Regions from separate parts of the Homo sapiens genome. Here all the other regions are linked to region 2. The links come from fine-mapping of genetic effects on gene expression. A gene starts in region 2. Each other region holds a variant in brackets. All regions are shown on one strand. Distances are between the middles of the regions.

Evidence for each region.
Region 1: its variant is fine-mapped to the expression of GOLGA3 in whole blood (TOPMed, PIP above 0.99). The same link has a PIP of 0.9 or more in breast, esophagus mucosa, esophagus muscle, fibroblasts, gastroesophageal junction and left ventricle.
Region 3: its variant is fine-mapped to the expression of GOLGA3 in nasal epithelium (TOPMed, PIP 0.94).
Region 4: its variant is fine-mapped to the expression of GOLGA3 in whole blood (TOPMed, PIP 0.99).

The regions. Positions count from the first base shown.
Region 1 is chr12:132,770,809-132,776,503 of GRCh38, forward strand. GOLGA3 (golgin A3) reads right to left here. Exons shown (of 24, transcript NM_001389683.1): 22 at 4,333-4,497; 23 at 3,349-3,512; 24 at 1-2,486. The coding sequence ends at 2,297. Among named protein-coding and RNA genes, the nearest start is that of ANKLE2, 12 kb to the left of the region's middle. RefSeq lists an enhancer at 994-1,193. The variant C/G (reference allele first, on the strand shown) is at 2,226.
Region 2 is chr12:132,824,909-132,832,361 of GRCh38, forward strand. GOLGA3 (golgin A3) reads right to left here and starts at 3,961. Exons shown (of 24, transcript NM_001389683.1): 1 at 3,895-3,961. It overlaps CHFR (checkpoint with forkhead and ring finger domains), which reads right to left. Exons shown (of 18, transcript NM_001161346.2): 18 at 7,448-7,453. It also overlaps the pseudogene RPS11P5. RefSeq lists silencers at 3,239-3,338, 3,839-3,898, 4,269-4,478 and an enhancer at 4,049-4,188.
Region 3 is chr12:132,758,374-132,765,826 of GRCh38, forward strand. It overlaps ANKLE2 (ankyrin repeat and LEM domain containing 2), which reads right to left and starts at 3,459. Exons shown (of 13, transcript NM_015114.3): 1 at 3,245-3,459. The coding sequence starts at 3,425. RefSeq lists enhancers at 2,805-3,673, 4,028-4,127 and silencers at 2,908-3,497, 3,588-3,877. The variant G/A (reference allele first, on the strand shown) is at 4,154.
Region 4 is chr12:132,855,977-132,863,429 of GRCh38, forward strand. It overlaps CHFR (checkpoint with forkhead and ring finger domains), which reads right to left. Exons shown (of 18, transcript NM_001161346.2): 7 at 5,491-5,658; 8 at 3,092-3,251; 9 at 1,429-1,583; 10 at 492-654. Among named protein-coding and RNA genes, the nearest start is that of CHFR, 28 kb to the right of the region's middle. RefSeq lists an enhancer at 579-1,778. The variant C/T (reference allele first, on the strand shown) is at 3,299.

The DNA.
Region 1 (5,695 bases), 55 kb before region 2:
ATGTTTAGTAAAGACGGGGTTTTGCCATGTTGGCCAGGATGGTCTGGACCTCTTGACCTCAGGTGATCCACCCGCCTCGGCCTCCCAAAGTGCTGGGATTACAGGCATGAGCCACCGCGCCCGGCCCGATTTCTTGATTTTAAAATTAAAACAAAGGGGTAGTACAGCCAAAATAAATAAGAACGTAAATTGCCGTATTTTTTTTTCTAATGGTACAAGAACAATTTAGTAAATAACATCTTCAACTTAAGATAAAAAGTAGGATATATTTATAATGAAATTTTCAAGTATTATTTCAAAATTAACCCTGTACAAATGATATATTTTGGAAATTCCAATATTTGCTAGAGAATATTTTTTAAATACCAAACATCTTTGTGGTTAATGCTACCTTAACCTTACCAATTAACCTTCTAAAAGTATATTACAACAGAACACAAATAGCTTAAAACACACCATACTGTTTTCTCCACAAAACAGACACCAGACACCGACATGAGCACATCTGGCCTGGCCAGTGACTCAGAACCTCATTTCAGACCAGTACATCTGCAGAGGAGGCCACGCGGACCCATTCTCTCTCTCCTAACTCATATAATAAATATTATTTTAGATTTTCTTAGCAAACTAGGGGACAACTTACAGACCCCACCTCTCCCAGTCAGCCAGTGTCTGCAGGGTTTCAGGATTTGGGGTAGGAAACAGAAGATCTCACACATGTCGTGCTGATTTTAAATAAGGCATCTGTCTCTGAGACACCTGGGAGAGCACAGCCACCTTCCTCACGGTGCCTGCCTGTCTCTTCCGGAAGTCGCCTCTGCTTGCCACATGATGCTGGTGTAACCACAAAAGATCCAGGACTTCTCGATGACTGCAGAAGTACAGGTGCTCCTACACACGAGTACAGGCGCTCCCACAGACAATGGTAAAGATTTTCACTTGGGGAACAGGAGTGTGAGGTTTGTTACCGCCTGCGACCTACACCTGGCTGACTCCAGGGGAAACCGCGGGAGTCGCTGCAGGGAGCCCCTGGTCTGCTCTCCTCCTCCTCCTCCACCGGCCTCTCCCTGTGCCCCCCCAAAGGTCAGATCAGATATGGGGCCTCAGTGTCCTTGTGCCTCCTGATGGCCGTCAGGCCTGACCAAGGGTCCAAGCTGCCCCTTCCCAGTGGCCAGCCACGGTGGAATCACACAGGGCCAGTGGCCTGAGAGGAAGAGACCAGCAGGAAGGAAAGATCCTCAGCAACAAAGTAAAACCAGAACAACAGAGGACCTTTCTGTGTAAGAATATTTGGCTTTAGAAGGTAAATAAAATAATTATATTTCTTAGAATTTTCTGACTATCCCTAAATCCTGCAGGTAAATTATTCCCAACAAATTTTCAAAAGGCAATCAATAATAAGTAGGTTCTTCTTCAATAACATGAGCATATGCTTCTTAAAGACTGGGTGACAGGCCGGGCGCAGGGGCTCACGCCTGTAATCCCAGCACTTTGGGAGGCTGAGATGGGCAGATCACTTGAGGTCAGGAGATCGAGACCATCCTGGCCAACATGGTGAAACCCCATTGCTACTAAAAATACAAACATTAGCCTGGCATAGTGGCGCACGCCTGTAATCCCAGCTACTCGAGAGGCTGAGGCAGGAGAATCGCATGAACCTGGGAGGCGGAGCTTGCAGTGAGCGGAGAGTGTGCCACTGCACTCCAGCCTGGGCAACAAAGCGAGACTCTGTCTCAAAAAAAAAAAAAAAAAAAAAACAAAGATTGGATTATGATATTCAGTATCTATGTACACATCCTATGGTGGGATGGCTATCCAAAAAAACAAGTAAAAAGCCAAAGGTACAGATAAAATTTCATTTCTGCGGAAAAGTAAAGCTCTTACTGAATGGAACAGGGAAGTGAGAAACTGCAGCCGGCCTGGCCAGGCGCGGTGCCGCAGACCCTGTCACACAGCTGCTCCCAGTTACGCAGCCTCTCCCTGTCACCCGCAGAGAGCAGCATCGGTGGCCGCTCAGAAGCCACGACCTACAAGTAACCCTTCAGACACGTTCAAAGCTCCTCGCCGAGAGCCTATCAGGCTTTTAAGAGTTGGTCATTCCATGTGAAAAGCTAATTGTGATCTTCGAATGTTTTTCTAGTCCTTGGCTCTCATTCTGCTATATATTTTACTTCTTGTTAAAGGCAAAACAAAACTTAAATTTCATGTCTTAGAAAAACATCGAC[C/G]ACACAATCAAATAAATAACATTGATAAGAGCCTTCTGGGGCAGCGGCGCACGGAGGCGAGTCCACAGCAGTCACTCTCCCGGCCCTTCTTTGGAAGCCCTGCTCTGACTGTGTCTCTGTGGGTCGCCGCGTGGGCCGGCGTGACCCCCCGGGGGCACAGGGCTGGCAGTGGCTGGCTCCAGCGGCGTCCACGAGGACAGAGACTCGTGCACCGTCAGGGCGTGCTCCTCCATCTGGCGCTGCAGGCTGTCCATCTCCTGCCTGGGACAGAAGAAGGAGGAAGAAGGCCCAGATCACACAAGTGCCAGGCAGAACGCGCCACCTGTGGACAGCGTCACTCGCTAGCACCTGAGTGGACCGGGGCGCCTTCGGGGATCCGCAAACCAACTGAGACCACAGAAGCTCAGCTGTTCTCAGCACCGTTCTCTACACTGTGCAGAGGACACAGGCTCAAGGACCAGTCCTGACCAGGCGGCAGGGTGGAAGCTGTCACTGAGGCCTGGCACACACGACTTCCACTCCGTTACCTGCCCTCGGGGCGCCGCCTGGCTCCGCCCTACACACTTCGCTCAGCCTCAGGCTGCCAGGTGCACCATGTGTGGCCTTCCAGCTTCTCAGGGCCTATCAGGGTAGTTTAACTCCAGGCAGTTTCCACCTATGAGTTCACAGGCTGTGTGTGCGAGTTCCCCCACCTTTATATAAACCTCAGAGGCTGTGCGAGTCCCCCTCCCACTTTATATAAACCGCAGAGGCTGTGTGAGTCCCCCTCCCCCTTTATATAAACCTCAGAGGCTGTGCGAGTCCCCCTCCCCCTTTATATAAACCGCAGAGGCTGTGAGTCCCTCCCCCTTTATATAAACCACAGAGGCTGTGCGAGTCCCCCTCCCCCTTTATATAAACCTCAGAGGCTGAGTCCTTCCCCCTTTATATAAACCTCAAAGGCTGTGTGTGCAAGTCCCTCCCTTATATAAACCTCAGAGGCTATGTATGCGAGTCCCCCACCCTTATATAAACCTGCTGAAACTCTGCTGGGCACTCAGTACTGGCACCAGGAGTGCCCTCCCAGGTAAGAGGGCATTAATCTTTAAGACTAGCTGAAGTGCAGCACGGAATACGGTCGTACTTGAGCTGCTGGAGGCAGCTGTTCAGGTTCTTGAGGGGCTCCTTGCTCACGGCGGGCGGTGGTCTCAGCAGCTCCTCCAGCAGCGAGGCGGGAACTGGGCAGTCCGGGATCTTGATGGGCGTGGCAGGGTTGGAAGAGCTGGCCTCGCCTTTCGGCTCCTTTCTCTGTTTTTAAAAGCACATGATCAGCTTTCCCACCGTCCCCTCCCTCGGGTCAGTCTCACTAGCACAGCTTGTGGCAAACGGGCCTCCCCAACTGGTGGACGTGGGGCCTCTGGGAAGGGGACCGTCCTGGCCGCCGTGGCAGCCCAGCACGACAGTCCCCGGAGCTCCAGAATAGCTGGCTGAGGAAACACCTTTATTCCTAAGGCACAAAACCAGAGCAAAGCAGAGACAACCTAAGTCCTGGGTCTGCGGCAGGACGGGGCCGAGCCACAGACTACAGCTCTCCCAGACGCTTCTCCCATCAGATACTCAAGACCTTGATGTGGAATTTCCGTAAGAAATTAAGTAAGTTTTCCAGCTTAGGCTCCCTTTTCTGGGACTTCAAACTTTTTCCACAGATAAGCACACGACGCTAAACGGCCTCTCAATCCGAGCGCTGCCCTCCCACCTGCCTCCTGGAAAACATGGATGTGGACCGAGCACAGAAAACCGCCGGGCGCCTGGGCACAGCTCCCGGGCCCCAGCCCTTCACACACAGCAGGGACTGCCGAGTCACAGACCACCGCTCATCTGCTTTACAAAGCACATTACAACAAAGTGGTATTTGAATTCACAGAACGAGGAAAACACTGTTGGATGAATGAAACCAGAATGAAATGATTTCATCTGTCACCCCATTACCACTGACTACACAGCAGCTGCTCAGTGTGGGCTCAACAAATCCGTTTATGTCTGAATGACTAACACGTCTGCCAGCCTCCTGTCCGAGAGCATCTACAGCGCACGTCGGCTACCCCGGGAGGGACGCGGGCCTGAGTACCGTCTTGGCCGCGCCGCGGCGTAGGTCCAGCTTGAGCTGCTGGTTCTGCTGGAGCAGGGTCTTCATGTTGTTCTTCAGCTCCGACACTTTTGCCTGGAGCATAAATTTATCCTTCTGGGTCATGGACAGGTCTTCCTGGGCCATCTCCAACTCAGACTTGACGTTCTGTGGAAAATGAAGTCAGATTTTTAAAAGCTAACAGATCTTAAACATCCTGCCAAGATCCGAGTTTGTATTTTCATAGGTTAAGCACACACATGTCCTCCTCGGCGCCATCTAGATGATGCCAGTCCAGGTCCAAAATGCTCAGGACCAGAAGTGTGTCAAATTTTGGAATTTTGAATATTTGCGTTACAACTACCAGCTGAGTATCCACAATCCAAAAATTTGAAATGTTCCAATGATCATTTCCTTTATCATGTTGATGCTCAGAAAGTTTCAGATTTTGGATTTTTGTTCTTGTTTTTTTTAGACACAGGGTCTCACTCTGTCATCCAGGCTGGAGTGCAGTGGTCCAACCACAGCTCACTGCCTAAGTGCTGGGACTACAGGTGTGAGCCACCAGGCCTGGCCAGGTTTTGGATTTCTGGATGATGGACGCTTGTCGGCCTGTGTCTATAAATAAATTCTCACTGTAACTCAAGCCCCTCATTTACAAGGGGAACTTAGCAATTACACTCCTTTCCCGAGCAGTCAAGACCGAACCCTGAGTTCTTTGTTGAGAAGTTTATCGCAAATTGGCAAACTTTTCCCACGCACCCTCCCATTTGCTGTAGTCCATGAAATCACGTTCTTGGTCCGTGACACACAGCGCGGCCAAGGGATCGGAGCCGGCCCAGGCTTCGCCCCTGCCTCTGTCCTGCCGCATGACGTGGACCAGGTGGCTTTGCGAGCGCCCCACTGGACGAGGGCGCCAGCTCCCCGGGAGCACTGCCTGGCCGCAGGCCGCATGGCACAGGAACCAGGGGCTGCCCCAGAAGTGGTGCTCCCGCCTGTGTCCAGCACCTCATACACAGGTACCTGCAGCAGCTGCTGTAGCCCCTCCAGCTCCTTCCTCCCTGCTGCTCCCGCCTGTGTCCAGCACCTCATACACAGGTACCTGCAGCAGCTGCTGTAGCCCCTCCAGCTCCTTCCTGCCCTGCTGCTCCCGCCTGTGCCCAGCGCCTCAGATACAGGTACCTGCAGCAGCTGCTGTAGCCCCTCCAGCTCCTTCCTCCCTGCTGCTCCCGCCTGTACCCAGAGCCTCACACAGGTACCCGCAGCAGCTGCTGTAGCCCCTCCAGCTCCTTCCTCCCTGCTGCTCCCGCCTGTACCCAGCGCCTCACACACAGGTACCCGCAGCAGCTGCTGTAGCCCCTCCAGT
Region 2 (7,453 bases):
CCACGCCCACCTGGGAATGGAGAAGACACCCACAAAACAAGGGGAGGAGCATCAGCAAAATGATGGCTGCTTATCACAGGCTTGCCCCTTTGACAGATGAATTACAAACTGGCACGGAGGACTACACGCGGTGGAATGTGGACTCGACTGCGCCACTGAATACTGGTACCCTGTACATCTGGTCCTCTTGAAAATTTCCTAGCAAAAGAAAACTTGCGTTTTGCTTTGTGATGTCTTTGCTTCTGCCTTGCGGGGGTGGGGTGATTATATGGAACCGACCGTGTGTGCCTACGCGTGCAGACCCTCCTGGCCCCTCAGGTAAAGGAACCGACGGTGTGTGCCTGCGCGTGCAGACCCTCCTGGCCCCGCAGGTAAAGTGTCTCGTCTACCCCCTCTGCCATCACTGTACCTCACGTGGCCTCCACCACAGCACGTCATGTCTGCCATTGCGTGTGTGCCCATTACATGGCGAGATCCTTGAAGACAGAGACTCATTCCCCGTCTGCCTCCCACCACCTTGAACACTCCCAACTCCTAAAGTGCCAACACAGGTTTAATTTGCCGAATTAAATCTTCAGTTCTGCTGATTCTGCTGAGTACATTCCTCTGCTACAAAGCTAATGGTTCCAAAACAAAATGATTAAGTATTTGAATCCTGGAGCATCAACACTGCCTTTTAAAATACAGCAAAGTCTAAACTAGTCCAGCTGAAACATCTGTGAGCTTCAGTTCCAATGAGGGAGTCCAGGGAGTTAGAAACTGGAAGAGCACCTTTTTTCAGTGGCCGGGAAGATGGCGGACATTCAGACTGAGCGTGCCTACCAAAAGCAGCCGACCATCTTTCAAAACAAGAAGAGGGTCCTGCTGGGAGAAACTGGCAAGGAGAAGCTCCTGCGGTACTACAAGAACATTGGTCTGGGCTTCAAGACACCCAAAGAGGCTACTGAGGGCACCTACATTGACAAGAAATGCCCCTTCACTGGTGATGTCTCCATTCGAGGGCGGATCCTCTCTGGCGTGGTGACCAAGATGAAGACGCAGAGGACCACTGTCATCCGCCGAGACTACCTGCACTACATCCGCAAGTACAACCACTTCGAGAAGCACCACAAGAACATGTCTGTACACCTGTTCCCCTGCTTCAGGGACGTCCAGATCGGTGACATCGTCACAGTGGGCGAGTGCCGGCCTTGCCGGCCTCTGAGCAAGACAGTGCACCTCAACGTGCTCCAGGTCACCAAGGCTGCCAGCACCAAGAAGCAGTTCCAGAAGTTCTGAGGCTGGACATCAGCCCGCTCCCCACAATGAAATAAAGTTATTTTCTCATTCTCCAAAAAAAAAAAAAAAAAAGAAACTGGAAGAGCAGCATCACGGCCACGGCCCAGACAGGCACCACCACCTGAACAGAAGGAAGGATGGGATGACCAGCAGGACTGGACTCAGCCATTACAGGTGGAACATGCAGAGGAGAACTGCTGCAGAGGAGAACTGCTGCAGAGGCCCACAGTGACGACGCCTGGGCCTTACACTGACCAAGAAGGAACACAGCCAAAGACGCTCAGGTTCCACCGAGAGGGCACGCCAACATGGTGACAGCCAACCGCACCGAGCTGAGTCCAGTGCAATCACAGATTCTGCTCACTTAATTCCCCTGCTGGTGTCCAAGCAGCCCACCTCTCCAGAACAGAGACCCCATGACGGTGACTGTAAGTCACAAAGACGGCCCCTCTTTACAGGCAGCTCCTCCTGAAGCCGGACCAGAGAGAGAATTCACTAACTGCCTGGAGTTTGGTGACAGTGATACTTCTCCCTGTAGGGCAATAAGCTGGCAGTCTCGGTCGATTCCCAGTCTTGCTTGATTTTTAGTTAAAATTTGGAATGACTCAGTCGTCAGGGCCTCATTACCTCAGACTACTGACAAAAAGCGATCTCCGGGCAGCGAGGAGGAGGAGCAACTGCCAGTGCATCACAGAAAGCTGGTACTACAAACATGGCTCTATTTTAAATAAAGAGGCCAGTCTAATCAGTCTCACTTATGATCACTCGCACTCCTGCGTCTCTAGAGAGAAGAGACAGGACAAAGCTGTCACTTAGAACTGCGAAAGGTACACACAACCCTAGGTTCACAGCTGGGTAACATCAAGGGACTTCATACTGAGAAACCACCACCTCAGGCACCTACAGGACTTTCTGCTTCCCCCACACCTGAATTCTGTATACAAACATTCACGGCTCCATCTACACCACCTCGTTTCACCTGTTCCTATCGGGTATTAGAAACAACAGAGCACAGCCAAAAACCAAACACGATTTCCTCAGGAAAAGAGTACCTGGTGGAGGCCACACTAGTATCCAAAAGTAAACACAGATCTATACACAAAGTGAAAACCAAAAGCAAGCAAGCCTCATGTCACTGCAGAGACGTGAAGGGCAGGCTTGGAAGTCAGGACTCCGGCCTCAGCTCCCGACCCTCCACCACTTACCTGTGAGAGCCTGGGCTAAAGATTTCTTAATCACATTTAGCCTGTTTCCTCACCAGTAAAACAATGAGAAAATGAACGCAAAATTTTGCCAGGATTAAATATAACAAGGCACAGAGTCTGTCCCGTGTCCTCAATAAAATGACAGTAATTATCACGATTTTCCCTTTAGTTGTTGCTTGTCAAAATCGCTAAAAGCCAACTGAAGGCATTCTCACTTGGGAAAGTATGCTACTTCTTAAGGCAATCGGGGGAAAAAAAGCTCCTCTTCAATCTGAGTGATGTCAGATGATTTATTTCCTTCTTGCCATTTAAGGTATACTGCCTGAAAAGATATTAAAGGGTTATAAAGCGCTATGTTGATGTCGTTTAAAAGACAGTTCAAAATAATCCACGACGACGGGTGTGGCTGCTCACACCTGTAACACCAGCACTTTGGGAGGCTGGGGTGGGAGGATCGCTTGAGGCCAGGAGTTCCACACCAGCCTGGGCAATACAGCAACACACCCAGTCTCTTAAAAAAAAAAAAAAAATCCATGAGTCATCTGTAAATGGCTTACACTGGCCCAGTGACAATAAACTCCAACCTCTTAAGAATCCAGCACCTGCCTACACCAACATCCTTACCGCCATCGCTTTCCCCCTTTGCCATTACACTGTGGCCACATCCTCCGCCCTCAGGGTCTTCAAACTTTCTGCCTGAGGCGCGCTTTTCTCACAATTTTGCCTGGCTTGCTTCTCGTCATAGAGGCCTTAGCACGGAAGTCGCCCGCCCCCCAGGCTCCCACTTAGAGTAGCGGACCCCACCCAACCACCGCCCGGTACCCTCTCGCTGGCGACCCTGGGTGTCCCTGTCCTAGGTGGGCTCCGCGGGGGCAGTGACCCAGACCCACAATACCCAGGACCCGCCACACGACTGACATTCGTCGGGTTCATACCCGTGACAACGCCCGGCCCCACTCGCTCTGGCCACCTGGAATGAAGACAAGTCGGCCAGCGACAAAGACAAACAAGGAAGTACACGGACTCCTGAAACCCCGACTTCCCACGAACCACCCGACACCATGTCACGCCTTTCAGCTGCAAAGGGCCAGGCTAAAGCAAGCACTGCCCGAGTGGTGGCAGTGGACAGCTTCGGGACAGGCCGCGCTCGTCGGGCGCAGACAAGCATTCAGGAGGGCTCGCGGGCACCGGCATTTACAGAGCCAGCTCCGCCGCAGCTGAAGGCGGGCGCCCAGGCCCGAGGCCACCGCAGCGAGGCGGGGGTGACTGGAACGGGGCCGTCCCGCCACGCTGCAGGGACGCGCCCAGGCCCCGCCGCCGCCCCTCGAGCCTCCCCCGCCCATGCACTGCGGGAGCGGGAGCGGGAGCGGGAGCCCGAGCCCCGAGGCGCCGCGGCCTCCGAGCCCCTCACCCTGCTGCTCTGGCAGCCCCGGAGGCCGCCCGGCCCGGATGCTCCGGCGGAGACGTGGCCGTGAGAGGGGCGGGGCGAGCGGTGCATCGGCCTCGGGTCCCCGGAAACAGCCTGCACGCGCTACTTTCGTTCCGGAACAGAGAACGTCCTCCTCTTCTTCAAGTGGCCACCCTAGGGCCGGGGACCCTCTGCCCACAGGGTCCGGATCGAGCTCACCTCCGACTGTGATGAGGCCGCCTTCAGAAAGTGACCTTAAGAGTTTGCGGACCTTTCCCTAGTAGAAACGCAACTTCCGGAACTGCAGGACCAACTCTTTCAGGAAGCTGAACCGAGCTTCCGGCGGAAGTGGCGTGGCCGGGGCTCGGCATGGGCGCGGCCGAGCTCGGTGTGGGCGTGACTTCCCCGCCCGCCCTAGTCGGGTCCCCGCCCCAACCCCGCACCTCCACCCGGCCGGCGCCCTTCGCGCTTCAGGTGCCAGATCAAAGGCGACGCTGCTTTGGACCCTATTTGCTTCCCCTTTAAAAAGGGCAAAGCTGGACGGCGCGGGCCGCTGGCCGCTGGGGAACGGCTTTCCACCTTCCCTCATCCGCCAGGCCGCTCTTCCAGCTGTCAGGAAGGAAATGGCCTGGAGGGCGCCTCGGGGTCCTCTGTGATGTTGCGCTCATCTCTGCGGATTTTGGAATACGCTTCAGTCTACGAAGTTTTCTGGGATTTTGATGGGAACTGCTGCAGATCGTTTGGGGAGCACGGGCATCGCTGACTCGGTCCTTCATCTGCGTCCCTGGTGGCCCCTCCATTTATTTCGGTCTTTTGATTTCTTCCACCAGCATTTTGTAATTTCAGCATACAGATTCTGCACCTTTTAAGTTTATAGTATTTCACATCAAACAACTGTAACACTGCGTTTTTGACGTTTTCCACGTGTTCACTGTTGGTCTACACAAATGTGATGAATTCTATGTTGATTTTCTTATCCTGAGACCTCGCTGAACTCATTAGTTTGAGGGTTCATTTGGTGTTTTGCGGTTGTTGTTGTAAAATCCTTGTATTTTTTACATGGGCCATCATGTTATCTGCAAATGCAAATTCTAACACAAAATGATCAGACTGAGGCGTAAAATATACAACTTTTAGAAGAAAACAGAATTTCTCACATCTAGAGCTTGGGGAAGAGTTCTTAGATCTGACCAAAAAAACACAATTCACAAAAGAAGTTGATAGAGTAAACTTCATGAAAAAATTAGAAACTTTTCACCGGATGCGGTGGCTCACGCCTGTAATCCCAACACTTTGGGAGGCCAAGGTGGGCGGATTACCTGAGGTCAGGAGTTTGAGACCAGCCAGGCCAAATGGTGAAACCCATCTCTACTAAAAATATAATAATTAGCCGGGCATGGTGGCATGTGCCTGTAATCCCAGCTACTCAGGAGGCTGGAGGAGAATCGCTTGAATCCAGGAGGCGGAGAGGTTGCAGTGAGCGGAGATCGTGCCACCAGCCTGGGCAACAGAGCAAGACTCCGTCTCAAAAAAAAAAAAAAAAGCCGGGCACAGTGTCTCACGCCTGTAATTCCAGCACCTTGAGAGGCCGAGGCAGGTGGATCACAAGGTCAAGAGATCAAGACTATCCTGGCCAACATGGTGAACCCTGTCTCTATGAAAAATACAAAAAAATTAGCTGGGCGTGGTGGTGTGTGCCTGTAGTCCCAACTACTCGGGAGGCTGAGGCAGGGGGATCACTTGAACCTGGGAGGCAGAGGTTGCAGTGAGCTGAGATCGTGCCACTGCACTCCAGCCTGGGCGACAGAGCGAGACTCCATCTCAAAACAAACAAACCAACCTTGTGAGAAAGACCACATTAAGAGGATGAAAAGATGAGTTACAGACTGTGAGAAAATATTTTCAAACCACGTTTGTTGAAGGACTAGTAGCTAGAATATATAAAGAACTCTCAAAACTTGACAGTAAAAAAAAATACAATTATTCTGGGCACAATGGCTCATGCCTGTAATCTCAGCACTTTGGGAGGCTAAGGGGGCAAATCACTTGAGGCCAGGAGTTTGAGACCAGCCTGGCCAACATGGAGAAACCCTGTCTCTACTAAAAATACAAAAATTAGCCAGGCGTGGTGACGCACACCTGTAATGCCAGCTATTTGGGTGGCTGAGGCACAAGAATTGCTTGAATCTGGGAGGCGGAGGTTGCAGTGAGCTGAGATTGTGTCACTGCACTCCAACCTGGGTGACAAAATGAGACTCCATCTCAAAAAAAAAAAAACCATACACACACACAAACAGAAGACAAGCAAAAAACATGAAAACACATTTCACTAAAAGGATATATGAGTGGCAAATAAGCTTGTGACCAGGTTCAGCATCACTAGCCATTACAGAAATGCACATTAAGACTATCTTGAGGTCAGGCGCGGTGGCTCAAGCCTGTAATTCCAGCACTTTGAGAGGCCGAAGCAGGTGGATCACCTGAGGTCAGGAGTTCGAGACCAGCCTGACTAACATGGTGAAATCCTGCTTCTACTAAAAATACAAAAATTAGCTGGGCATGGTGGCAGGTACCTGTAATACCAACTACTTGGGAGGCTGAGGCAGGAGAATCGCTTGAACCTGGGAGGTGGAGGCTGCAGTGAGCTGGGATCACACCATTGCACTCCAGCCTGGGTGACACAGTCAGACTCTGTCTCAAAAAAAAAAAAAAAAAAAGACTGCCTTGGGATATTAGTATACACCTATTAGAACAGCTGAAATAATATACAGCAGTGGCAATATGAAATGCTGGGAATAATGTATTCTGGAGTAACTAATCTCTTATACATTGCTGATGGGAACAGCAATAGTGCACCCACTCTGGAATATAGTTGGGCAGTTTCTTCAAAAAGTAAACAATTTTATGACCCAGCAACTGCATTCCTAGACATTGAACTCAGAGAAATAAACTTATGTCTACACAAAAGCCTGTACATTACTGACCCCAAACTGGAAACAACCAAAATGTCCTCTGACATGGTGAAACAAACCATGGACCCCCCACGCCACTCTGACATGGTGAAACAAACCGTGGACCACCCACGCCACTCTGACGTGGCAAAACAAACTGTGGACCACCCACGCCACTCTGACGTGGTGAAACAAACCATGGACCACCCATGCCACTCTGACGTGGTGAAACAAACCGTGGACCACCCATGCCATGGACACTACTCAGCAATAAAAAGGAGCTGACCACTGATGTGTGCAATAACTTGGACGAAGCTCCAAGGCATTACATCCAGGGAGGAAAACATCTCCGAAGGTCTACACTGCATGAACTGTACGATGTGTCCACTTATGTCACAAAATGACAGCATTATAGAGTGGTGGTGGGGTTCGGATGACTAAAAAGGGGTAGATGGAGAGAGATTTTTGTGGTGATGGAACTGTTCTGTATTTTGTGACCGTGGTTACGTGAATGTCCTCATGTGATAAAATGACAGAATGAAGAAAACACTCCACCAAGCTCAGTTTCCTGATTTTCATATTGCACTATCCTAAGGTGTAGCCAATGGGAG
Region 3 (7,453 bases), 67 kb before region 2:
GAGTGAGACTCCACCTAAAAAAAAAAGAATAAACCCGCGGACGTCGCATTGAAATTGGAAGTATCAGTATGATCACAAGGTCTTTGACAGATCGATGGGTAAAGATGTGAGAAACAGCTAGGTCTGAACACTGGGTTATAATGTTCCATTAACAATTTTTTTTTTTTTGAGATGGAGTCTTGCTCTGTCGCCCAGGCTGGAGTGCAGTGGCACGATCTCTGCTCACCGCAACCTCCACCTCCTGGGTTCAAGCAATTCTGCTGCCTCAGCCTCCCGAGTAGCTGGGATTACAGGTACCTGCCACCACGCCCCGCTATTTTTTTGTATTTTTAGTGGAGACTGCCTCACCATGTTGGCCAGGCTGATCTTGAACTCCTGACCTTGTGATCCACCTGCCTCGGCCTCCCAAAGTGCTGGGATTACAGGCATGAGCCACCGCAACCGGCCAAGTACACAACTTTTGAGACTGGCTTTTCCTATTCAGCATAATGCCCTTGAGATCCACCCACGTGGCAGAGTGGATCGCTGCGGAGTGGCACCCCGGGGCACCCACGTGGCAGAGTGGATCACGCAGTGTGGCACCCCGGGGCACCCACGTGGCAGAGAGGATCGCTGCGGAGTGGCACCCCGGGGCACCCACGTGGCAGAGTGGATCGCTGCGGAGTGGCACCCCGGGGCACCCACGTGGCAGAGAGGATCGCTGCGGAGTGGCACCCCGGGGCACCCACGTGGCAGAGTGGATCACGCAGAGTGGCACCCCGGGGCACCCACGTGGCAGAGAGGATCGCTGCGGAGTGGCACCCCGGGGCACCCACGTGGCAGAGTGGATCATGCAGAGTGGCACCCCGGGGCACCCACGTGGCAGAGAGGATCGCTGCGGAGTGGCACCCCGGGGTATCAGTGTGCAAGTTTAACCATTTGAGTTATTTCAGTTTCTGGTAATTACAAATAAAGTTGCTATGAACATTAAATATGGGTTTTTGTGTGAAAATAGTTTTCATTTGTCTAATAAAAGCTCAGGAATGCAGGGCAGGTTTAACTTCCTAAAAACCTGCCAGGCTGATTCCCAGAGTAGCTGCACCACTTACCGTCCCCACCTGCAATGCACGAGGCCCAGTTTCTCTAAATCTCTGCTGACTATATATATGTATACTATATGTGCTATATGATATACACGTATCATATGCCATGATATACGTATATTATACATCATATATAAAAACATATTTTTATATAAAATAAATCAGTATTTTTTTATTTCAGCCATTCTCAAAACACCACCCTCACCCGCCGCCACCTTGTCCGCAGCTCTGCCTGGATGATGCCGCTGGTGACAGTAACAGCACTCAGAGGTGCTTAACACATACCAAGTGCTGCACTTACCCAACTCCCAAAAAAGCCTAACCAGGTATCACTATCATCCCCATTCCTAAAAGAGCAGGCTGAAAACAGGTTAAGCCCACAGCAATAAGTGGTAGGGCCCGGTGCGATGGCTCACACCTGTAATCCCAGCATTTTGGGAAGCTGAGGCAGGTGGATCACCTGAGGTCAGGAATTCGAGACCATCCTGGCCAACATGGTGAAACCCCGTCTCTATTAAAAATACAAAAATTAGCCGGGCGTGGTGGCAGGCGCCTGTAATCCCAGCTACTCGGGAGGCTGATGCAGGAGAATCGCTTGAACCCGGGAGGCGGAGCTTGCAGTGAGCCGAGATCGCGCCACTGCACTCCAGCCTGGGCCACAGGGCGAGACTACATTTCAAAAAAAAAAAAAAAAAAAAGTGGTAGGGCCGAGACACAAACTCACACAATTGGACAGGAATCCCCACTCAATCATCAGAAAGCACCTCTCCGCAGTGACTAACAGTCTGACAATTTAGAGTAAAAACAAACTCAGTTTCTCCCACTAGTCTTGCAACATGCTTCGGACACCAGGTATGTGGGGATTTTCTCCCCACAAATCACGCAGGTCGTCAGTTCTGCAGTGGACACAGGCTGGGTGTCGTCTGTCATCCTAATTCAGTCATCTATTCTGACAGCGTCTTCCTGGAGATACCAGCAGACCCCCACAGGTTAACGGCTCAGCCCCGCAAGACTGCCCCCCACTTCCAGTGCCCAGGTTGTTTGACCTGCGCTTGGGACCGACGGGGCGTAACCCGGTGACCTCCTCAGGTTGCGGTAATTTGCTAGAGTGGCTCCCGAACTCACAGACATGTTTTACTTACACTTACCAGCAGAGTATAAAGGATTACAAAGAATACAGGTGAAGAGATGCGTGACGTAAAACCGGGGGGAAGCGCTTGGAAATTCAGGGCCTCTCTGGGCACCGCCTCCAGGAACCCCCACGTACTATCTGGAAGCTCCCTGAACCCAGCCCTTTTGGGTTTTTACAGGAACTTCATTTCACAGGCGTGATTCATCAGCCACTGGTGATCAACGCAACCTTCACCCCTCTCTCCTCCCCAGAGGTTGGGGGTGGGGCTGAAAGTCCCCAGAACCTCTAACCCTGCCTTGGTCTTTCCTGCGACCAGCCCCATCCAGAAGCTCCCTAGGGGCTGCCGGCCACCAGTCCACTCAGCCTACAAAAGACATCACTTTGGAGGTTCCCGGGATTTCAAGAGTTGTATGCCAGGAAAAGGGGATGGAGCTGAAATACACAGTTCACTGTATCAGTTACCTCAAACTTAAAACGACCAAAACCCACCTCTGATCTCCACATCACCCAGACCCGACAGTCTACCGCAAAGCAATAAATGGCCACCTTCTCCCTCTTCCTCTGGCCCCAAACCCCTGAGTTACATTTGCCTTTTCCGTCTCTGCCTTATGTTCCATGACCAGTAACCGCAATGGCTTCACGTTCCAAACACATCCGGGACCCAGGGGTTTCCTCCCCGCGCCGCCCTCCTTTGGGCCATCCCTCCCCAGGTCTCGAGAGACCGCAGCAAGAGTCTCCGCTAACGCCTCGCCGGGCCCCCGCCGCCTTCCCCGGAGGCTGCTCCAGGGCCCGGGAAAGCTCTCACCCCCGAACCCGGCGTGGCCCCTCCGCCCCCGGCCCGGGAAGCCAAGTCCCCGCAACTGCCCTTTCCGCGGCCGGAATGGCCTTTCCCGACCGGCCCTGGTTTCCCCGGCCGCCTCGCCCAACTGCTGCCGGCTCCAGGGGCGCGGCCGGGACCCCAGGCCCGAGGAGGGCGTCGGGGCGGGGAAGGGGCCAGGGTGCGGGGACCCAGCGACCGCCTGGGCCTTACCTGAGGCGGGGGCGGCGGCCGCGCTTGGCGGAGGAACTGGGGTCCCGCTGCGGCCCAGACCTCCCGGCCGCGGGCCCAGCCGCCGCACCAGCCACCGCACAGCGATCAGCAGCACCGAGGCGCCCAGCAGCTCCCAGGCCAGCGCCGCCCACTCGGCCGCCGCCAGCCGCGGCCACAGCATCGCCGCCGCCCGGGCCGCAGCCGCCGAGAAGCCCGCGCCCCGCGCCGCGCCCGTCCCAGGACCCCGCGCCGGGCTGCCCGCGCCCTGCCTGACGGCGCCGCGCTCGAGGCGGCCGGGGCGGCGCGGGGGACACGGACGGCGGCCCCGCTCGCGGAGGCCCGGCGAGGGCGCGGCCCCGGCCCTGGGACCCAAGCGGGCGGGAACGGGCGAGCGGACGGGCGGGCGCGGCAGGCGGGGCGCGGGCAGCCCGACGCGGGGTCCTGGGACCGGCGAGGCGCGGGGAGCGCAATGTGCTGGCGGGGGCCGGGGCTGGGGCCCGGGGAGGCCACCAGGGCGGGGCCGGGCGCGGGGCGGCGCTTCTTCGCGCCTCCCGGCCCCGGCCTGGCGTCCGTGGGGCGCTGTGCGTCTCCGAGAACGAAGCGGCCTCCGGGTTCGTGTGCTCCGAGCCCGAGTACTGTTTGCGGCCGTCGTCCCGTCCTGGAGCAGGAGTGAGGAAGCGCCTCTCACTCCCCCGCGAACCCGCAGAACAGGCCGCCGGCGCTATGGAGACCGGCGGAGCTTCCCGCTCCTTCACCAAGGGGCCCTGACGCGCAGTTGAAAGCGCGGATTTTGCCGGGCGCGGCGGCTGCGTCCGGAGTCCCAGCGCCTTGGGAGGCGAGGCGGGAGGATCCCCACGGCCCGGGAGCTCGAGACCAGCCCGGGCAAATATTTTGAAAGTCATGGTAAAA[G/A]CCGCAATTACTTTTGCACCAACCTAATAGTGAGACCCTGTCTCGAAAAAGGGAAGGAGGATTTTACTGTATGTAATTTAGATGTTTTATTTATTTTTTGATGCGGTGTCTTGCTCTGTCGCCCAGGCTGAAGTGCAGTGGCGCGATCTCGGCTCACTGCAGCCTCCGCCTCCTGGGCTCAAGCGATTCTCCTGCCTCAGCCTCCCAAGTAGCTGGGATTACAGGTGCCCACCACCACGCCTGGCTAATTTTTGCATGTTTAGTAGAGACGGGGTTTCCTCATGTTGGCCAGACTGGTCTCGAATTCTTGATGTCAAGTGATCCACCAGCCTCGGCCTCCCAAAGTGCTGGGATTACAGGCGTGAGCCACCGCGCCCCGCCTAATTTAGATATTATTAAATGAAAATGAAAGACCTGAAAAATATAATTGATATCCTTGGTTAAAAACATAATTGATCTGAGCGAGGTGGCTCAGGTCTGTAGTCTCAGCAACTCTGGAGCGTGAGGGGTGATGGTAGTTTCAGTCCGGGAGTTCGAGGCTGCCATGAGCGTGATCTCGCCTGTGAATAGCCACTGCACGCCAGCCTGACCAACATAGCAAGACCCCATCTCTTAAAAAATATCATTGGATGGTACTAATGGTTGGTTGGGCACTACAGAAGAAAGGGTCAGTAATTTTGAAGATGGATGAAATGGAAATTCAAACCACGATGAGATGCTGCTTGAAATCCACCAGAATGGCTAAAATTTAAAAATTGGCAATATCAAATTTTGCTGGCAAGAGCAAACACTGAGTTAACCACCTTGGAAAATAGTGAGGCAGTTTCTTTCAAAGTTAAACGTACACCTCTGCTGTATTCTGAGTGTCTGTCCCCAGCGTTCGTATGTTGAAACCCTAACCCCCCTTGGCCGGGCGTGGTGGCTCACGCCTGTAATCCCAGCACTTTGGGAGGCCGAGGCGGGCAGATCACGAGGTCAGGAGATCGAGACCATCCTGGCTAACACGGTGAAACCCAGTCTCTACTAAAAAATACAAAAAATTAGCCGGGCATGCTGGAAGGCACCTGTAGTCCCAGCTACTCGGGAGGCTGAGGCAAGAGAATGGTGTGAACCCGGGAGGCGGAGCTTGCAGTGAGCCAAGATCGCGCCACTGCACTCCAGCCTGGGTGACAGAGCGAGACTCTGTCTCAAAAAAAAAAAGAAACCCTAACCCCCAAGGTGATGGTATTAGGATGTGGGGCTTGTGGGAGGTGATAGGTCATGGGACAGAGCCTTATATACTTCCCTTAGAAGAGGCCCAAGAAGGCTGGGCACGGTGGCTCACACCTGTAATCCCAGCACTTTGGGAGGTCGAGACAGGAGGATCGCTTGAGCCCAGGAGGTGGAGACCAGCCTGAGCAATATGGCGAGACGCTGTCTGTGCTAAAAATTTAAAAAATTAGCTGAACGTGGTGGCACACGCCTTGAGGAGGGAGGATTACTTGAGCCTGGGAGGTCAAGGCTGCAGTGAGCGAAGATTGCGCCATTGCCCTCCAGCCTGGGAGAGAGAGACCCTGTCTCAAAAATAAATAAATAAACAAGTACGTACATACATACATAAAAAGGTAATTATGTAAGTCCTCGTTACGGAGCCTCCATACATGAAGGGCTTTAGAGCCGATTTGTTAAATGGTCAGCTGTAGTCAGCTGTTGACACCCAGCGTCCACTCTCCATTAAGTTATTAAGAGCTTTTTCTTAGTTACAGAAGCTCTCAGTGGGCTGTGGAGACGCTGCCGTCTCCTGAACACATCCAGCGACCACATGACTAAGCAAAGGCAGCGGAGAGTGGACGGACGGTGATGGACGCGGCCACGGAGCCCAAGCGCCCACAATGCGCATTCCTGTCTTTTCTCTCCCCGCTCACCTCAGAGCGGGACGGAAGGTGGGACTGGGAGAGCTGTTCTCGGGCAGGTGGACGCTGTGGATTAGCGGAGAGGGAAGGCACTTTCGTTCTCGGCACCGTGAGGCTGTCCTGGTCAATCCTGTTTTCATGCTTGAGGGTCTCTGGTGCAGCAGCTCCACCAGCCTTGACACCAGGACTTCTGTGGAATCCAGGTAAGCAGCCAGGGTCCTGATAGGGCCATGCCCTCACCCCCATGTAATGCATCCACTCCCAGTTAAATGAGAAAGGAACAATCACAGGAAAACATGGAGAACAACTCCACTGTTCAGAAGCCAACCCTATATTAGCTACTGTTTAGGTAGAAATGAAAAACTTTGAGACGTAAACTCCTGCAGGTAGAAGTAGATTTCCGGTGAATGAACAAAATGAAGCTTATTAGAATCAATGGCCTCTTCTGAGAGCCGTTCTGAATTTTTTTTTTTTTGAGACGGAGTCTTGCTATGTCGCCCAGGCTGGAGTGCAGTGGCGCGATCTCGGCTCACTGCAAGCTCCGCCTTCCGGGTTCACGCCATTCTCCTGCCTCAGCCTCCCCAGTAGCTGGGACTACAGGCGCCCGCCACCACGCCCGGCTAATTTTTTGTATTTTTAGTAGAGACGGGGTTTCACCGCGTTAGCCAGGATGGTCTTGATCTCCTGACCTCATGATCCGCCCACCTCGGCCTCCCAAAGTGCTGGGATTACAGTCGTGAGCCACTGCGCCCAGCCCTGATTTTATTCCTAGTTGTAATTTAACTTCTACTTCATTTCTGATCCGAGATCACAAAGGGGCCATGTGAGCCCCAGGGACTGAGCGGAAGCTGAAGTCTCACAGCTCGAGGATTTACTCCCAACGTGCTGGGAAAAGCCCTAGATGAGCAGGGAGTAGCTAATTTCTTTTCTTCCCCTTCTTTTTCAATATTAATTGGATTTCCTTAAAGGCCGTGTGTCTATTAAGTTTGTTATCAATGGCTATTTAGCACTTGTAGAAACCCAGCCGTATGTTACATACAGTAGGGTCTAGTCAGGAAAACAGCCCAGGCCAAGTGGTTCAGCAGAGGAAATGCAGGGGCAGGGACGGCAACCGCAGGACGCCAGAGGCCCTCAGGTGGAGATAACGGCCCTGAGTGGAAACGTACAGGCTCCAGAACCTGGTGGGACCTGGGCTGATGCAGGGGAATGAGGGGTTTCAGGGGAGCTACGGCCGTGACCATCAGACGCCCAGCTGCAGGGACAGGCAGGTGGCGGGGGGGGGGGGTCTGTTTTCTGGGTGAAGATGGGGGCATTTTTGAAAGCATTGGGAAGATACACTTGACGTATCTATCCAGTCTCCAGAAATGCACGTTTAACGCTCAGAAGGAAATCTTGCAACAATTGAAGT
Region 4 (7,453 bases), 31 kb after region 2:
TGTCTTGGCCTGGTGATGGTGCCTCTTCTGTAATAACGTCCTGACAAATGATAAACATTGCAATTTATACTATAGGACTTTATAGTCGCTAGATCAACTACAAAGAATACATGTGCTCATGTGGGAAAAAATAACATGGAATGATGTCCCTCTGTCACAGCCAGAGATGCCACACCCATGACGAGTCGAAGCAAAGGGAAGGGTGTCAGCCGAGGGTGCAAATGTCTACAGCAGTCGCCTGCGGCTGACGCTCTGCTGGCTACCCCCTGGCTACCCCGCTAAGTGTTCACCCAGTCCCTGCCACGCCTCTCAGGGGAGGTGCTAATACTATCCAATATCAGAAAACAAGCTCAAGCCATTTAAGAGCTTGGCTGCTCAGGGCAGAACTAGATCTCAGGACCCATGCTGTCCACCCAGTAGTGAGCTCTCGGTCACGGTTGTGATGCTCCTCTGGCTCACACACTCTGCTCTGAGCCAGGGGCATGATTTACCTAATGTCTGAGGACTCACTGTCAACGTCTGACAGCTCCAGCAGGTCCTCTGAACTCCCTTCTTCATCAGAAAAAGACCGCCTGACTTTGGGCTGCAGCATGTCTTGAGTGATTTTATTTCTGGCATCCATACTTTGCACATCTTCTTCACTGCGACTCTTGTCTAGAATTGAAAGGACACAGCGCCATTCACCGGCAGTGAGACATGGCAGGCAGACACAGCTCACACTGCTGGGAGCTCGCGTGCGCAGTGCTGCGGAAGGAGGGGTCTGGGCGGACCGCCCTCACGTGCCCGGGTGCTGGTGGAGGGACTGCCCTCACGTGCCCAGGTGCTGGTGTGGATGCCCTCACGTGCCCGGGTGCTGGTGGAGGGACCGCCCTCACATGCCTGGGTGCTGGTGTGTGGATGCCCTCACTTGCCTGGGTGCTGGTGGAGGGACCGCCCTCACTTGTCTGGGTGCTGGTGGAGGGACCACCCTCGCTTGCCCAGGTGCTGGTGGAGGGACCACCCTCACGTGCCCGGGTGCTGGTGTGGATGCCCTCACGTGCCTGGGTGCTGGTGGAGGGACCACCCTCACGTGCCCGGGTGCTGGTGGAGGGACCACCCTCACGTGCCCGGGTGCTGGTGGAGGGACAGCCCTCACGTGCCCGGGTGCTGGTGGAGGGACAGCCCTCACGTGCCCGGGTGCTGCTGGGTGGATGCCCTCACGTGCCCAGGTGGTGGTGGAGGGACCGCCCTCACGTGCCTGGGTGCTGGTGTGGATGCCCTCACGTGCCCGGGTGCTGGTGGAGGGACCACCCTCACGTGCCCGGGTGCTGGTGGAGGGACAGCCCTCACGTGCCCGGGTGCTGCTGGGTGGATGCCCTCACGTGCCTGGGTGGTGGTGGAGGGACCGCCCTCACGTGCCCGGGTGCTGGTGTGGATGCCCTCACTTGCCTGGATGCTGGATGAGGTATGCTTCCACGAGGTTGTTGAGGATGTGGTTTTTACAGATCCGCTCCACGGGACAGCGGCAGGTAGGACACAGGGACGAGCGCTCCATCCAGCCCGAGTAGCAAGCCGCGCAGAACGTGTGCATGCAGGGCTGCAAACTGAAAGTGCAAGAGGAACAGTGTCCAGACAGTCCCACAGATGCAACCGCGACCCTCGACCAAGGTCCGCAGCAGCCCCACCACGGAAGGGCCTACAGGGGCCCAGCCATCGTTCAACCTAAAAACCCTTTAAGTCAGTCTTGGTTAATGAAAAGAAATCAGAGGCCACACGGCCTCTGTGTTTTCAGGAAAGACAGAGGCGAGTAGATTATGACTTCAGGAACACAAACAACAGAGACAGCAAGTGTTTCTGGCCCAGAAGTTGGAAGGTTGTCACTCTTGAGTTCCCGCGGAAAAGCAAGGAGGCCCTTCCTCAGCGGCTCCTACGTTCATTCTATGCGAAATACACCTTCCCAGATAAGGAGCATTTAAAATGTGCAGAGTTCCTTTCATCTGTTTGCAGAGTTCACGGGGTCACACACGACCCACACACTCAAAACTTGTGGGGTCTACAGCCTCCGGCTCTGGGTTCCAGGTTTCCTCCTTGTTGGTGCCACGAGTAGAATGAAAGTGGTAGCCATGCGGGGTGGCTCACGTCTGTAATCCCAACACTTTGGGAGGCCAAGGTGGGCAGATTACCTGAGTGCAGGAGTTCGAGACCAGCCTGGCTAATATGGTGAAACTCCCGTCTCTACTAAAAATACAAAAAAATTAGCCAGATGTGGTGACGCATGCCTGTAGTCCCAGCTACTTGGGAGGCTGAGGCAGGAGAATCACTTGAACCTGGGAGGTGGAGGTTGCAGTGAGCCAAGATCACACCACTACACTCCAGCCTGGGTGACAGAGCGAGACTCTAACTCCAAAAAACAAAAACAAAAACAAAAAACCACCCCGGGCTACATGGCGAAACCGTCTCTACAAAAAACACAAAAATCAGCAGGGTGGCTGGGAGTAGTGGCTCACGCCTATAATCCCAGCACTTTAGGAGGCAAACGTGGGCAGATCACCTGAAGTCAGGAGTTCAAGACTAGCCTGGCCAACATGGTGAAACCCTGTCTCTACTAAAAAATACAAAAAAATTAGCCGGGCATGGTGGCACACGCCTGCAGTCCCAGCTGCTCAGGAAGCTGAGGTAGGAGAATCGTCTGAACCCGGGAGGCTGAGGTTGTAGTGAGCCAAGACTGTGCCACTGCACTCCAGCCTGGTGACAGAGCGAGACTCCATCTAAAAAAAAAAAAAAAAAAAAAAAAAAAAAGGAATAAAAAATATTTAGAACATTAAAAAAAAAAAAAAAGTCAGCCAGGCATAGTGGTGTGCACCTGTAGTCCCAGCAACTCAGAAGGCTGAGGTCAGAGAACCGCTCAATCCTGGGAGGGAGAGGTTGCAGTGGGCTGAGAAAGCTCCACCCACTCCACCCACTCCACCCACTTATCTGGGTGACAGAGTAACCTCAGCAGATGCCAGGCCAAACAGGACCTGCAGGCTTGTCTCATGCCCAGCCCTGCCCCACACGGGACGAAGAACCTGCAGTGCCATGTTCCGTGAGCCAAGGGTGAACACGGTCGCACCTCACGCAGTCGTGCAGCAGGTCCTGGCAGATGATGCATGTCAGCGTCTCCTCCATCTTGTCTGGCTTCCCAGCCGCTGCTCTGACGTCCTCGTGGACGGTTTGGGCATTTCTACGCGGTTGTGCGACCAACAACTGCCCGTTCAGGTCAAGGTCCCCATCTACAGGAGAAAGGGATGTGTTCTGTCGTAACCAAGAAGGAAATACA[C/T]GCAGGTTCAGGTCAAGGTCCCCGTCCACAGGAGAAAGGGATGTGTTCTAACTGTCGTAACCGAGAAGGAAATACATGCAGTCTTTTTTTTTTCGAGACAGAGTCTCGCTCTGTCGCCCAGGCTGGAGTGCAGTGGCGCGATCTCGGCTCACTGCAAGCTCCGCCTCCCGGGTTCATGCCATTCTCCTTCCTCAGCCTCCTGAGTAGCTGGGACTACAGGTGCCCACCACCACGCCCGGCTAATTTTGTGTATTTTTAGTAGAGACAGGGTTTCACCGTGTTAGCCAGGATGGTCTCAATCTCCTGACCTCGTGATCCACCCGCCTCGGCCTCCCAAAGTACTAGGGTAACAGGTGTGAGCTACCGCGCCCCACCCTCTTCTGGTGTTTTTATTTTTCTATAATGCTCAGATGTTGGTAATCAATTAATTTTTATTTTTAATTAAAGAAACTGTACACAATTTAAAAAGCCAAGTATTTAGAAGAAGCCAGGTGCAATGGCTCACAACTGTAATCCCAGCACTTTGGGAGGCTGAGGTGGGCAGATCGCTTGAGCCCAGGAGTTCAAGACCAGTCTGGGCAATATAATGAAACCCCATCTCTAAAAAAATGGGAAAAAAAATTAGCCAGCTATGGTAGCGTGCACCTGTGGTCTCAGCTACTCGGAAGGCTGAGGTGGGAGGACAGTCTGAGCCCAGGAGGTGGAGGCTGCAGTGAGCCAAGACTGCACCACGGCGCTCTGGCCTAGGTGACAAAGCAAGATCCTGTCTCTTAAAAAAATGTATACATAATATATTTAGAAGAAAACAAAGGCAGTCACCCTCCGTCTCAGCCGCTCCTCACCCAATTTCCCTCCTCGGAGGAAAACTATTTTCATGTCTTTGAGCTGTTTCTTCTGGTATTTACCTCTGTGTTTCTAAGTTATCATGGTACATTTGATTTATCAATTTTAGACATCATTCCTGACATCTATTAAGGTAGAGAAAAACTCTGTCCTGAGACACCCCTGCCAACATTACATTAACAGATTACATTAGTTCATGATACTGTATTTGTATTATTATGCTTATGCAAGTATTCACTGCTGAGCCAAGTAGTTTACTAGATTAAGTTGTGTGACTTACACAATTTTTCATGTTTGCTAGAATTAAAATTTCCTCATTCCTGTGCTTATTTTTCCTGTGTAACTGTTGCTGACTCTTTCCACACCTTCCCCACACCGATCAACCCCACGTGTCAGATAACCTAATTTCTTTCCCTGGGGACCCCTCCTAGAACCTTCCTGTCACAGTGCCCCAGTGGCTGGCTGCTCTCTGGACTGCTATACAGCAATGCTTCTACCATAACATTCCCAAATGTTTTCTAATAATCTTAACTTTGGCTTTCAAAGTGCAGACTTCTCCCTAAATCATCTTCAATGTGAAGATTTAAGCTACATTTTTAGAAATTATTGTCCTACCAGGACAGAGGGCTTTCTTTTTGATTTTCTTTTTTTTGAGATGGAGTTTTGTTCTTGTTGCCCCGGCTGCAGTGCAATGGCACAGTCTTGGCTCACTGCAACCTCCACCTGCCGGGTTCAAGCAATTCTCCTGCCTCAGCCTTCCAAGTAGCTGGGATTACAGGCATGCACCACCACACCCAGCTAATTTTTGCATTTTTAGTAGAGACGGAGTTTCACCATGTTGGCCAGGCTGGTCTTGAACTCCTGACCTCAGATGATCCGTCCACCTTGGCCTCCCAAAGTGCTGAGATTATAGGCGGGAGCCACGGTGTCAGGCTTGATTTTTATTTTTAGAGATAAAGTCTTGCTCTGTCGCCCAGGCTGGTCTCGAACGCCTGACCTCAAGTGATTCTCCTGCCTTGGCCTCCCAGTGTTAGGATTACGGATATGAACTACTGCACCTGGCCAGGAAGGAGGATTTTGAGATTAATTCTGCAATTCAGAATGCACTATTTCCAGACCAAGAGAACAGCCTGTAGCAAATCACAGTTCTATCTGGATTATGCAAACCGCAAAAAAACAGGCCCAGGTTTTCTGAATGAAAATGCCGGAGGTGTTACAGGCATCAACCTGAGGCAGGGTCCACATGCCCCTGCAGGAAGCAATGCCCCACAGCACGGAGCATGGCAGCGGCCCCCGCATGCCCCAGGAGCACACGAGAGGACTGAGGACACACACAACCAGACACTAACCTCCTCTCATTTTCTTCTTCACGGGCTCCAAATCCTCCTGATCCTGGGGTTCCAACGACGAAAAGGACGCAGTCTTTCTGTCTGGGAGAGCTGAGGCAAAGCTGGAGACTTCATCACTTGCCACAGAGGGACCACTTCCTTTAGGGGAGATGCCACCACCCCCAGACCCTGTGAGAGGAATCAAACAAGATAGGTGCTGATCCATCCAGCTCAGGAGAGAACCATGCCTGTAAGGTGTCACTGACTGGAGCCCAGTGCAGCTGGCAGCCTGAGATGTCGTAGTTTAGGAATGACAAGTGGCTTACGAGGAGTGTGTGCTCACTCAACTCACATCTTAACTCTATTTGTGCCTATCTCTACGTGGGGTGGAGCTGGGGGCAAGGAGCCCATTTGCAGAGAAACAAATGCGGAGATGTCTGTGACCAGGCTTAGCCCTCGAGCACCGAGTCTAACGCAGGGCAAACCCACATACCCGTGGTCATATGATACACACTGTGTCATAAACTTGTTACAACAGAGCTTTGGGCCGGGTGCGGTGGCTCACACCCGTAATCCCAGCACGTTGGGAGGCCGAAGCAAGTGGATCACCTGAGGTCAGGAGGTCGAGACCAGCCTGGCCAACATGGTGAAACCCCATCTCTACTAAAAATACAAAAAAATTAGACAGGCGTGGTGGCGAGTGCATGTAGTCCCAGCTACTCAAGAGGCTGAGGCAGAAAAATTGCTTGAACCCGGGAGGCGGAGGTTGCAGTGAGCCAAGATCGTGCCACTGCACTCCAGCCTGGGCAACAAGAGCGAAACTCCCTCTGGGGAAAAAAAAATAAAAATAAAAAATAGAGGTCTGAGGCTGGGCATGGGGCTCACACCTGTAATCACAATACTTTGGGAGGCCAAGGTGGGAGGATCACTTGATCCCAGGAGTTTTAGACCAGCCTGGGCAACACAGCAAGGCACCATCTCTACAAAAAATACAAAAAAGAAAAAAAAATTAACTAGGCGTGACAGTACGAGCATATGGTCCCAGCTACTCAGGAGGCTGAGGTGAGTGGATCACTTGAGCCCGGGAGTTCGAGGCTACAGTGAGCCATGACCACATCACTCTCCCAACCTGCACAACAGAGCAAGACCTCATTTTTTTTTTTGAGACGGACTCTTGCTCTGTTGCCCAGGCTGGAGTGCAGTGGCTCACTGCAAGCTCCGCCTCCTGGGTTGACGCCATTCTCCTGCCTCAGCCTCCCAAGTAGCTGGGACTACAGGCACCCGCCACCATACCCAGCTAATTTTTTTGTATTTTTAGTAGAGACAGGGTTTCACCGTGTTAGCCAGGATGGTCTCGATCTCCTGACCTCATGATCCACCTGCCTCAGCCTCCCAAAGTGCTGGGATTAAAGGCATGAGCCACTGTGCCTGGCCAAGACCTCATTTCTTTTGTTTTCTTTTTCTTTTTTGAGACAGAGTCTCACTCTGTCACCCAGGCTGGAGTGCAGTGGCGTGATCTTGGCTCACTGCAAGCTCTGCCTCCCTGGTTCACGCCATTCTCCTGCCTCAGCCTCCTGAGTAGCTGGGACTACAGGTGCCCGCCACCACGCCCGGCTAATTTTTTGTATTTTTAGTAGAGACAGGGTTTCACCGTGTTAGCCAGGATGGTCTCGATCTCCTGACCTCGTGATCCACCCACCTCGGCCTCCCAAAGTGCTGGGATTACAGGCGTGAGCCACCGCGCCCGGCCTGACCTCATTTCTTAAAAAAAAAAAAAAAATGCCAGGCGCGGTGGCTCATGCCTGTAATCCCAGAACTTCAGGAGGCCAAGGTGGGTGGATCATCTGAGGTCAGGAGTTCGAGACCAGCCTGACCAACACAGTGAAACCCCATTTCTACTAAAAATACAAAATTGGCCGGGTGTGGTGGCACATGCCTGTAACCCAGCTACTTGGGAGGCTGAGGCAGGAGAACTGCTTGAACC